2 separate regions of the Homo sapiens genome follow, and region 1 is linked to region 2. A link means that fine-mapping ties the variant in region 2 to the expression of a gene that starts in the linked region. Tissue or cell type: tibial nerve. Region 2 holds a variant in brackets; the other region holds the start of a gene. All regions are shown on one strand. Distances are between the middles of the regions.

Evidence for each region. PIP is the estimated chance that this variant, and not a neighbour inherited with it, causes the effect.
Region 1: DAAM2-AS1 starts here. The variant in region 2 is fine-mapped to the expression of DAAM2-AS1 in tibial nerve (GTEx, PIP above 0.99). The same link has a PIP of 0.9 or more in skeletal muscle, subcutaneous fat and sun-exposed skin.

What each region holds. Positions count from the first base shown.
Region 1 is chr6:39,895,011-39,900,382 of GRCh38, forward strand. It overlaps DAAM2-AS1 (DAAM2 antisense RNA 1), which reads right to left and starts at 2,370. Exons shown (of 4, transcript NR_125831.1): 1 at 2,187-2,370. It overlaps DAAM2 (dishevelled associated activator of morphogenesis 2), which reads left to right. Exons shown (of 25, transcript NM_001201427.2): 20 at 1,802-1,970; 21 at 2,165-2,272; 22 at 3,867-3,927; 23 at 5,067-5,198. RefSeq lists enhancers at 1,789-2,288, 2,589-3,105.
Region 2 is chr6:39,901,089-39,906,460 of GRCh38, forward strand. It overlaps DAAM2 (dishevelled associated activator of morphogenesis 2), which reads left to right. Exons shown (of 25, transcript NM_001201427.2): 24 at 214-384; 25 at 725-3,781. The coding sequence ends at 949. It overlaps MOCS1 (molybdenum cofactor synthesis 1), which reads right to left. Exons shown (of 11, transcript NM_001358530.2): 11 at 3,082-5,372. The coding sequence ends at 5,269. Among named protein-coding and RNA genes, the nearest start is that of DAAM2-AS1, 6.4 kb to the left of the region's middle. The variant C/G (reference allele first, on the strand shown) is at 3,376.

The sequences.
Region 1 (5,372 bases), 6.1 kb before region 2:
TGTTACATGTAGCAGTGGGGTATTCATTTTCAGTTCTGCATTTTATTCCATTATATGAATACACCATAATTTACCCATTCTATTTGGAATTTAAAAAACCTAGAAACAACCCAAATACCCACCAAGAATAATGTGGCTTTTAGGTTATAGAGTATGTACATGTTCAACTTAAAAGCTACTGACAAACCTTACTATTCATTTTTACAACTTTATTTACTTATTTATTTATTTATTTATTTATTTGAGACGGAGCCTCACTCTGTCGCCCAGGCTGGAGTGCAGTGGTGTGATCTCGGCTCACTGCAACCTCTGTCTCCTGGGTTCAAGCAATTCTCCTGTCTCAGCTTCCCAAGTAACTGGGATTACAGGTGTGCACCACCACGCCTGGCTAATTTTTGTATTTTTAGTAGAGATGGGGTTTCACCGTGTCACCCAGGTTGTTCTCGAATGCCTGACCTCAGGTGATCTGCCTGCCTCAGCCTCCCAAAGTGCTGGTATAGCTTCTTTTTAACAGTTACTTATTTCTAACTGTGTTCGAAGCTTTCTACAAACTTTTAGCAAAGTCGTTTTCATTTTATCTTCCTAGCAGCATCTTAAAGAATGTTCAGTTTGGCATAAGCCACAGATCACAGGATAATCTGGTCTTTTTGTTGCCACACTGAATATTCAAAAATCATATTCCGTAACTAGTAGACAAAATCTCAGTTTAGGATTTGTGTCCCCCTTCTGCACACCCACCATAAAGACATCATAGCTGAGGAAGGGCCAGAGCATACACAGCAGAATGAATTATTGAAGTTTTGGTTACTGTTAGCTTAGTTTGTATTTCTGGCAAAGATAACATTTAGAGCATTGGGGGAAAATGGTTAAGATGCCCAAAGGTTGGAAAAATCTTAAAAATGACATTCAACAGGATGTCAAGTAGCTTATTTCATCAAATCTTAGACACTATCAACTGAAAAGCATGCCATTATTTTATAGAACAAAAATAATAGAATATTATAATTTAGAATATGTTATTTAATTGATTTTTTTTCTTTCCAAAAAACCAATAGAATATAGCATTTCAAGACAGGCAGAAGCAATCCCATAATAGGTAAAATGCTGAAGTTAAGTGCTAGGTTTAGAAAAGTAAAAGTGTCATATTCATGAGTATATTCATGGAAAGAATATCTGAATAATCTTTTTTTCTTTTTTCTTTTTTCTTTTTGATACAGAGTCTCATGCTCTTGCCCAGGCTGGAGTGCAGTGAGGCAATCTTGGCTCACTGCAGCCTCAGCCTCCTGGGTTCAAGGGACTCTTTTGCTTTGGCTTCCCAAGCATCTGGGATTATAGGCATGCACCACCACACCTGACTAATTTTTTGTATTTTTAGTAGAGACAGGGTTTCACCACGTTGGCCAGGCTGGTCTCGAACTCCTGACTCAAGTGATCTCCCTGCCTCGGCCTCCCAAAGTGCTGGGATTACAGGTGTGAGCCACCGCAACCGGCCTTCTTAATAATCTTTAAATACATGTAAGAAAAGATCTTCTGAAATTGTCTTCTTGGGAAGAGCTGGCACGTCCTACAAATGGGGTATCTGGTGAATTGGCCTTGGTGAATGTGTCTGCTTCCCCTGGAGGTGGGTGAATGTGAAATCGATGGGTCTGCTGAGGAGTAGGTATAATCTCTGCCTCACTGAGAGTTGAAGGCATTTGACAGCCCCTTTTCTGAACTTTGCGGTGGCATCTTCCTGGGGTGCAATGAGAACTGCTGCCCTGCCTAGCCCATGCAGGCCTCTGACCTGTGCCTCCTCTCCCAGCCATCCTGTTGGCCTCCCGGGAGCTGGTCCGCAGCAAGCGTCTTAGACAGATGCTAGAGGTCATCCTAGCCATAGGCAACTTCATGAACAAAGGGCAGCGTGGGGGCGCCTACGGGTTCCGGGTGGCCAGCCTCAACAAGATCGCTGACACCAAGTCCAGCATCGACAGGTGAGGACCTCCCTTCCCGGCCACTTCCTTGGCCTCTATCTCACCCTACCCTGGCCTCTCACATCCTCCCTCTATTAGGACGGGAACATCCTAAGACTCATCACCCCTTTCTCTTAACACTCCATCCTCTGACCCTCTGACCCTCGTGCCCAGTTTCCTCTGTCACTTACCACTGACCTGACTTTCATCCACAGAAACATCTCTCTGCTCCATTACCTGATCATGATCCTGGAGAAGCATTTTCCTGATATTCTAAACATGCCTTCAGAGCTGCAACATCTTCCAGAAGCTGCCAAAGTCAAGTGAGGGTTCTCTCCAAGACTTCCTTCTCCCCATGATGACCCTCATTCTTGTCTTACTTTCCTCTTTTGGGGTCTACTCTGGGCTTGATGATGGCTGGTGTGAGACCTCGGTTCTTGTCTTCTGAGTTCAAAAGAATTTAAACAGACACACAGCAAAGGGGGTTTAGCATAGAACAATGTATTGCAAAAGAAGATATCTTGTGAGTTAGGTGCAGAATAGACAGTACACCCTGAGAGAGAGAGGATTCAGGGTGGGCTGCTTGTAAGGATGAGACAGCCAAGACTGGCACCAGGAAGACTCCCAGTATGGGAGACTTACACGATTATTCATAAAGAGGTGGGAAGAGGTATTGGGAAGCAGGCTCTGAGTGGTCCTCTGGGTGCACATGTGTAGTAGCTGTGTGTGCTTTTTCATACATCGCATGTCTCATTAGCACCTTAAATCTCCACCTAGGGGTGTGTTTTTTTACTATTATATGAGCAAAGGGCCAGTCTGAGGATAGGTAAAATCAAAATGCGCATGCTTTCCAGAGGGGAAAGTCCCTACTGCAGATAGCTTTGCTTGAATGAGCTCAATTACAATGCGAATGCTGAGGTTTATTGTGTTGACTGTATGGGCACCACCACAGCTGCTGTGTTCTGAGAAGTGCTCACTTCCTTGACTACCTATCCTGCCTCAGGCTGAGTAGGAATGGGCCATGTCTCAGGGTCTGCTTCTGGGAAAAACCAAACAAAGACAATTTGCTCTTAAATCCTTATTTCAGAGATGCTTCCAGAAAATACCAGTAGAAGAATGGGGAAGTGAGCCAGAGATAGAAAGAATGCCAGTAACAAACATTATTAAGCCAGTTACCAATCACAGGCAATTGGTGCTTAACCCCATGAGGAATTCTGGGAAACAGTGTGGAATAGTTACTTCAGTTTTCCCACCCAAAGGGCAAGGTTGCTGGGGCAATCAGAGAGCATCTCCTCTCAGTAATTGGCTGAGGGGCTCTGCAGGGGCAGGGAATAACTCTCTGGCCACAGGTACAGGTGGAAAGAGCTTGGCCTCAAAAAGAGTGTGCGTACAGTTGGAAGAGTTGGGGCCATGCCCTACAATGGATGGTCCAAGGAAATGTGGGTGGGGCACCAACAGCATCTGCTAGGCAAGATATCAGACACGAACATCTAGGCTGATAGATGTCATCTCCAGGAAAACTAGAAACATAGTGGTAAATGGCTCACTGGTATCGAATGCTATTGCTTGCAGGATCACATAAAGAGCTTATAAGCATTACCTGGTAGTAATAAAAATAAATAGGTCTAAGCCAGAGGCCACAGGTTGGAAATCTTCTGATATTGCAGCATGACATTTCTGACCTGGAAAGATCTATAGAATGCAGGCTTCACCTTGTTAATTTATTGATGCACAGACAGAGGCATGAAGGGGAGGTGCTTTGTCAGGGCCAACATCAATGGCCACACCAGGGCTGGAACCCAGGCTCACCGACTCCCAGGCCACTGTGCTTGGCTCTGCCCTCTCCCTGAACCAGCCTTAGCACCTCAAGGCGGGAGTTGATGGTCCTCATTCCCTTCCCTCTGTGTCTCCTTACAGCCTAGCAGAACTGGAGAAGGAGGTGGGCAACCTCAGGAGGGGCCTGAGAGCGGTGGAGGTGGTGAGTACCTTGTCAGTGCCTACCTGGGTGAGGGCTGCTGTCAGCAAACACTGTTCGTCACTGCACCCTAAGCTCCTACACAGGGGCAAAAAACAATGGGTACAGCCTCTAGCACAGGGTCAGCCCTCCCAAAGGATAACTGGATTACTGGGGCTTAAGTTTGAGCCTTTTAAAAGGGGTTACCTAAGACTATACCCATGTTACTGTCCAACTTGGTATCTATTTGGCAGTGGAGTGGAATGAACCATACATCTGACCCATGCCTACATTGGATTCAAGTGCATGGGAAAAAGAATCCTCATCCCTTGACTGCCAGCTAGGGGCAGGAAGCACGCAATGTGGCAGTGGGACCGATGTACCCAGAAGGTTCTTCCTTATGTCTCTCTGCCTGTTTCCTGGGCCAGTGGAGGACCCAGGTCTTTTGTTCCCACCATTCCCGTTCTGATGGCTTCTCGGCTGATACTATCTCTGGCCCTAGCCTTCCAGAAAACACCAGTAGAGGAGTGGGGAAGTGAGCCAGACTGGCCCAGTATGGGGATGTCTCTAAGTCTTGTCCCCCACACCTAGGAAGAAGGGACCCGTTCCGTCTTCACTGAGGAGAGAGGCAGTGGGTAAGGGAAGAATGGACTTTAGAGACAGATTAAGGATGACAAAGAACGTTTTGTTGCCACTACGGTGGGGGAAGATGATTTCCAAATTTACAATTTTATAGTCCTGTTAAGTGCTACTCAAAGTGCGGTACATGGACCAGCAGCTTCTGAATCAGCTGGGAGCTTTAGAAAAATGTCTCTTTAATTTGTGCATGAGTCACCTGGAGTCTTGTAAAGATGAGTCTTGTTAAAATGCAGCTTCTGATCCTGTGGGTCTGAGAGTCTGTATTTCTCATAATTTCCTAGGTGATGCTGCTGGCCCCAGGTCACATGTTGGGTCTCAGTGCTCTAGAGAAAGAAAGATGGCAGGGTGGGCTGGCTGCTAATGTTAGCTCATAGTCTTTGCCATCCTTAGAACTTTGAGATGCAGGGTGTTCCCTCTTCCAAAGGGCTCAATGTCCTGTGAGTGACGAGGGGAGATGTGGTGACCCCTGCACCCGACTCTCATCTTGGCACCAGTCTAAGCAGCACTTCACCCTCCCTCCTCAGGAGCTGGAGTATCAGAGGCGCCAGGTACGGGAGCCCAGTGACAAGTTTGTCCCTGTCATGAGCGACTTCATCACGGTGTCCAGCTTCAGCTTCTCCGAGCTGGAGGACCAGCTAAATGAGGCCAGGGACAAGGTAAGGGTGCCCCAACCCCCACTGCTTGCCAACCCAGCCTTATCTAAACAAGCTCCTTCACCCATTCCTACCACAGACAGCCCAGGAGGGACAAACCCAGAGTTACAGAGCTTTGAGAGAAAACCGTTTCTTCGCTCTTAACAAGACAAGCAATGATAACCACATACCGCAAAG
Region 2 (5,372 bases):
GTGAGCCCAACTCTTTACCTGCCTCTCCTTAGCCTTGTCTCTGATCCTGATGATGATGGGGGTGTCTTCTCACCTCTTCCAGCCCTGCCCCCTGTGCCAACAGTCCCCAGCCTTGCGCTGGGCTCTGCTCTGGCTAGAACCCAGCTAACCTCAGGGGCTGAGCCCAGCATGCTCCAGGGCACTCTCCACCAATCCTGTTCTGTCCCTTGACAGTTCGCCAAGGCCTTGATGCACTTCGGGGAGCATGACAGCAAGATGCAGCCAGACGAATTCTTTGGCATCTTTGATACCTTCTTGCAGGCCTTCTCAGAGGCCCGGCAGGATCTAGAGGCCATGAGGAGGAGGAAGGAGGAGGAGGAGCGGCGGGCGCGCATGGAAGCCATGGTGAGGGGCAGTGCCAGGCCTGGGACTGAGGGGAGACGGGTGCTACTTGGGGAGAACACCCCCAAACTGGGGTGTGTGGGAGGAGGGCAGAGACTGAGGAACTGAGGAACACCATAGGGGTTGGATGTCAGCCCCAGGAGAGAGAAACTTCTTCCCAGCCTGAGGGAAGAGAGTGGTGTGAAGCTGGGGGCCTGTATGTCCTAGGCAGGAAGAAAGTGGGGCCAACAGATACAGGCAGGCAGCATGACCATGGCCTAGGAGTTAGCCCAGGGTTGGGGGGCTGCCCTGGCCTCAGCGCCTCTCCCTGAGAGGGTTCCTATCTTTGGCCCCCCGCCCGCAGCTGAAGGAGCAGAGGGAACGTGAGCGGTGGCAGCGGCAGCGGAAGGTCCTGGCTGCAGGCAGCTCGCTGGAGGAGGGAGGAGAGTTCGATGACCTGGTGTCGGCCCTGCGCTCTGGGGAGGTCTTCGACAAGGACTTATGCAAGCTCAAGCGCAGCCGCAAGCGATCAGGGAGCCAGGCCCTGGAAGTTACCCGGGAGCGGGCAATAAACCGGCTAAATTATTGACCTGGGGAACTAGCCACACAGGAGGCCGGGAGACAGGGACTGGTGAGAATGGGGCTGAGTGGAGGAGGTGGTGATATTTAAACCATTTGGTGCTTGGTTTAGAGCCTTGGGCTGGGTCCTGGGATGGGGGGCTGTGTGTGGCTGGACCAGGTGTCTCCCCACGCTTACCTTAAGGGGCTCCTCTTATCTCCCCTTCACATGATTCCTTCTGTGCCCTGGCCCCAGGTATTATTCTGAGGCTGCCTTGGATGGCCTCAGGCCAGGTAACCCCAGGCTGAAGGGGCCCTGCTCCCCATCCCCTACCATGGGCACCCATGTGCTGGCACAGAACAGTTCCAGATCTAGACTGGAGAGGTCCACAGCCTTGTCCAGAGTTCCTGTGTAGCACGGGGAGCAATGATGGAGGGAGCCCCTGAGAGGGAATCTGGTGAGGGAATCCAGACTCCCTTCTCTCAAGGGGAGGCTCAACAGAACATTGACCTGGGGGCAAACTTTCCTCTTGAATGGGAACAGAGGAGGCATTATATATTCTAGTTAGATCAGCTCTGGTAGGTTCCAGAGAACAGTCAATGTTGGAAGGATGATGCAGGGACCAAAGCCATCAGGACAGAGTAGCAGTGTCTGTTTCCCATGTCACAAGTCCTCTGGCCTCTCCCTGCATGTCTTAAGTATCTTTCCCTTCCTTCTCTACCCTCACCTCCATCCTGTCTACTAATCCACAGTCCTAGAAGACTCACCTTGGGTTTCCACAGCTATGGCTCACTACCAGGTGCTTGATGAATCTGGCGAGGGGCTCAAGACAGACCTCATGCATCACCACACCTCATGCCTTTTGGGCATCTCCCATGTCCCCATCTCCTGGACACCTGGCCATTGTTGTGAAGCCAGACAGTGACCTCAAATGTTGCCTTGGAGTCCCCTACAGCCCCTCAGCAGAGGGCAGCACTTGAATGCTTAGCTCCATCCCATAGTTCTCTACTTCATATAAATTGCTCAGGCCCTCCCACCCCTTCTCTAACACTAGCTTCAAGGCAGAAGCCACAGCAGCCTCTGTCCAGCCTGCAGGTGGCCACTTGGAACCATGTGTCCACTGGCGTTGGGGAGTTGGTTCCTGAGAGGTCTGAGGGCCAGAGCTGCCCTCTACATTAACATGCTGTCTCTAAGGGTGGCCCCTCCTCTCAGGCGTTCAGATGGTGCGAACAGCAGAGCAGGCAAGGGAAACTGGGGAGATGGGGATGGAGGAGGAAGGCTGATATCCTCTGGGGAGCACATCACCTGAAGGTGCCAAGGAGGAAGGCTGAGAGGGGGGCCACCCCATTTCTGGTACCCAATTTGGTTCTTCAGCCCAACTTGCAAGGGGTTCCTTCTGGTCCTCCCATCCACTGCCACCTTCCATTTTGTCCATCTCATGCTGGCCTTGGTGGATGGGATGGCTGTATCTAGACAAAATTTTTCTAAAACTCCATCAAGGCTCTTATTCAATACCACGTTCCGAGTTGGCCTTTCATCTTCTTTGAGACTGGCCCTGCCTAACCTCTACCATCAATGAGCTCTTGGCCCTTCTGCCCTTCCCTGTGTTTCTCACTTTCCAACCTAATCCCTGGCTCAGGGTTATTGCCAGTGGAGACTGGTGAGCTGGGCCTACTCTCAGCTGCCTATCTTCTGCCTTTCACTTGCATCCAACTCCTGGGGCTGGGACCGTAGTAGCTGCGGGGGGGAAGAAACACAGGGTCGGTGAGCCCAGCATGTGCGTTGGTTTGAGGGGGCGGGCGGTGTGTGTGTGTTCTGGTGGGAGGGATCTGAGCAAGTGCAAGCCTGGCTGACACAGGTGTGAAGAGGCCATCCTGGAACCCAGGTGAGGGCAAGATGAAGGCTTCCAGGCAGAACAGCTGCAGAGAGTTTGGCTATATGCATCTGCAGCCCCAAGAGCTCCCACTGCAAGACAAGTGTTGGGGAAGATGGGAGGTTGTGGGTGAGGCCTCTAAAGGTCCTCTCCCAAACTGACCAGGCTGATGTCAACCTAACCCCCTCAGGGGCAGGGAACAGGGGAGGGCTCCACAAGCGTGTCTGGCATTCCCACCCACCATGGAAGACTGGATACGCACCTGGAAACAAAAGGACTATGGAAGCTGTTCAAGATACATTTGATCTTCAGAAAAGCAGAATTTGGTTCAACTGTTGACAGAGGACACAAATACGTTGTTCCAGAGCTCAGCCTTCTCACTCTAAAAGAAAGATATTTTTCTATTTATTTTCTACATCTGGCCAGTGGCTCTGGTGCTAGATGCCACTGTAGCCAGATCTCCAACAGTGCCTTGGACCATGGACTCATACTCAACTGAGTAAGAAGGGGCTGGTGCCCAGTCGGGGTGGCTGAGCTGGTCCTTAATAGGTTGTTTCTTGGTCTTGCTTTCTTCATGCCCTCC[C/G]CACTGCTCCTGCCACCTTTAGATAAGTTTCTCTAGCTAATTTTGTGGCCAATGTAAAATTCGTCATCAACCTAACAAACACAACCTTCTCAGCAGCATTTCTCCCCTGTGATGGAAATAAAGTGTTTAGGGCAGTGGGAGGAGAAAATTCTCCAGGTGAATGGGGAAGGGTCTGTTCCAGCCTCTCCCTACTCCCATCCCATTTCCACCAACTGGGGAACTGTGACTATCTATCTCCCCCGACTTCTACCAGGGATGCCTTCACGCCAAGGCTGTTCTCACCAGCTGCCTCAGATGACAAATGAGGCTAATGGACATAATCTACAGTGTCCTTTTTCACTTGCACCTTTTTTATAAGAATATATTGTAATACTAAAAAATATTAAATTCATACCATCCCTACCCAGTCTGCCTTTAAACTTGTGCCTTCTTCCTATGAGGGGATCTGGGGTGGGCTGAGAGTGTGCTGGAGCCAGCTTGTACCAGCTCTGTGAGAACCAATTGTTTACATTTTCAGAAATTTTGCAAGCCATTTGACATACTGGTAGCTTGAAATTATTCAACATGGGAGTATTTATATCACAAATTGTCTTTTCCAGAGAGCTGGTTGTTTAATATTTGCCAGCACACCTTGGCATAGGGCAGAGGGGAGGCAGGCAGGGGGCACCACTGAGGACTCAAAGACATCCAAGTTAGAGAGCCCAGCAGGCCAGAACTGTGTGTGTTTGGGATGTGAGAACCAGGAGCCTCTAATTAATTGCCCTCTCTGATCTCTCTAATAGCTGGTAATGCAAGCAATGAGCTTTGAACACCCCTGGCCACCACCTGACAAAAGATTTCCCTTAGATGGTGCATTTCTATGCCCCCTACTCCACTTTATTTTCCCATAGCGGGGCTATACAGAGAGTACACCCTTAGGCCTTTCCAGGTCCCTCCTCTTCTTCCCTCAGGGAACTGTGTCTTGGGATAGGATTGATTGATTGATTGATAGGTGCAGCCTTCCCTGTGAAACTGCAGCAGCTCAGTGCCCTACCCACACAGTGTCTTCATTCTTGCATCTGCAAAGTTGGCATCGTAGCTTTATTTGTGCGCTGTGAGGGTGAAGGCAATCTATCATCAACTTTTCTTTCCCTGATATGCTCCAGAATAAAGAGGGGTGGGTGGAACAGCCGTGAACAGGGCCAGGTGTGGGCTGTGTGGTCTGGCAGGAGTCCTTAGGGCTATGGCCCATGTGTGCACATCCTGTTTCAGAAGAGGGGGGCCAGAGGAAAAGGGGCCAGCAGGACCGGGCAACTGTTAAGCTGAAAGGCTGCAAGTCTGATGGGACACAGACTTGGGCAGAAGGAGAGATGAAGTCAGGACAGGACAGGACAGGGCAGGGCTGCGGCTTCACAGACTTAGGGAGGCAGAGCTGCCGGGGAGAAGTTGGGATCCATTCTTCAGGCAAGCTTGTGCTTTGCTCTCCTCAAAGTGGGCTCCTCTGCTTAATGAGCGCTTAATCTCTCCCCAGGAAAGCAGGAGAAGAGAAAACCCAAAATGAGAAGGAAAAGTTCTGGGCTGGACTGTCGGAACCTGGTTGTCTGAAATAGTCCACAAAGAACATGATTTCTCAGTTATCTGGCATTGCTTGTTGCAGTCCCGCTCCCACGACCTTAGTGTCCTGGAAGGCTTAAGGGCCTGCTGGTATCCTCCCTATAGAAAGGAAGCCCCATTGGTCATTAGAGATCATCTAGCAGCAGGCCTGTTTGTTAGTAGTAGAGCAGGCTGACTTCGGGTTTACTGCTCAAGGTAAACAAACAGTGACTGTGATTAAAGGAACCTGACGTCTTTCCCTCAGCCTACATTGCATCCCAGCTCCAGGCCTGGGTGGGCCATGGGTGAGAAGGGCAGGTGCTAAGCCCGATGGAAGTCCCCCCGCTGACCACCAGTCTTGCTAATGAGCTTGATCTCCTCCAACACGATGTCCCTGCTGACAGCCTTGCACATGTCATACAGGG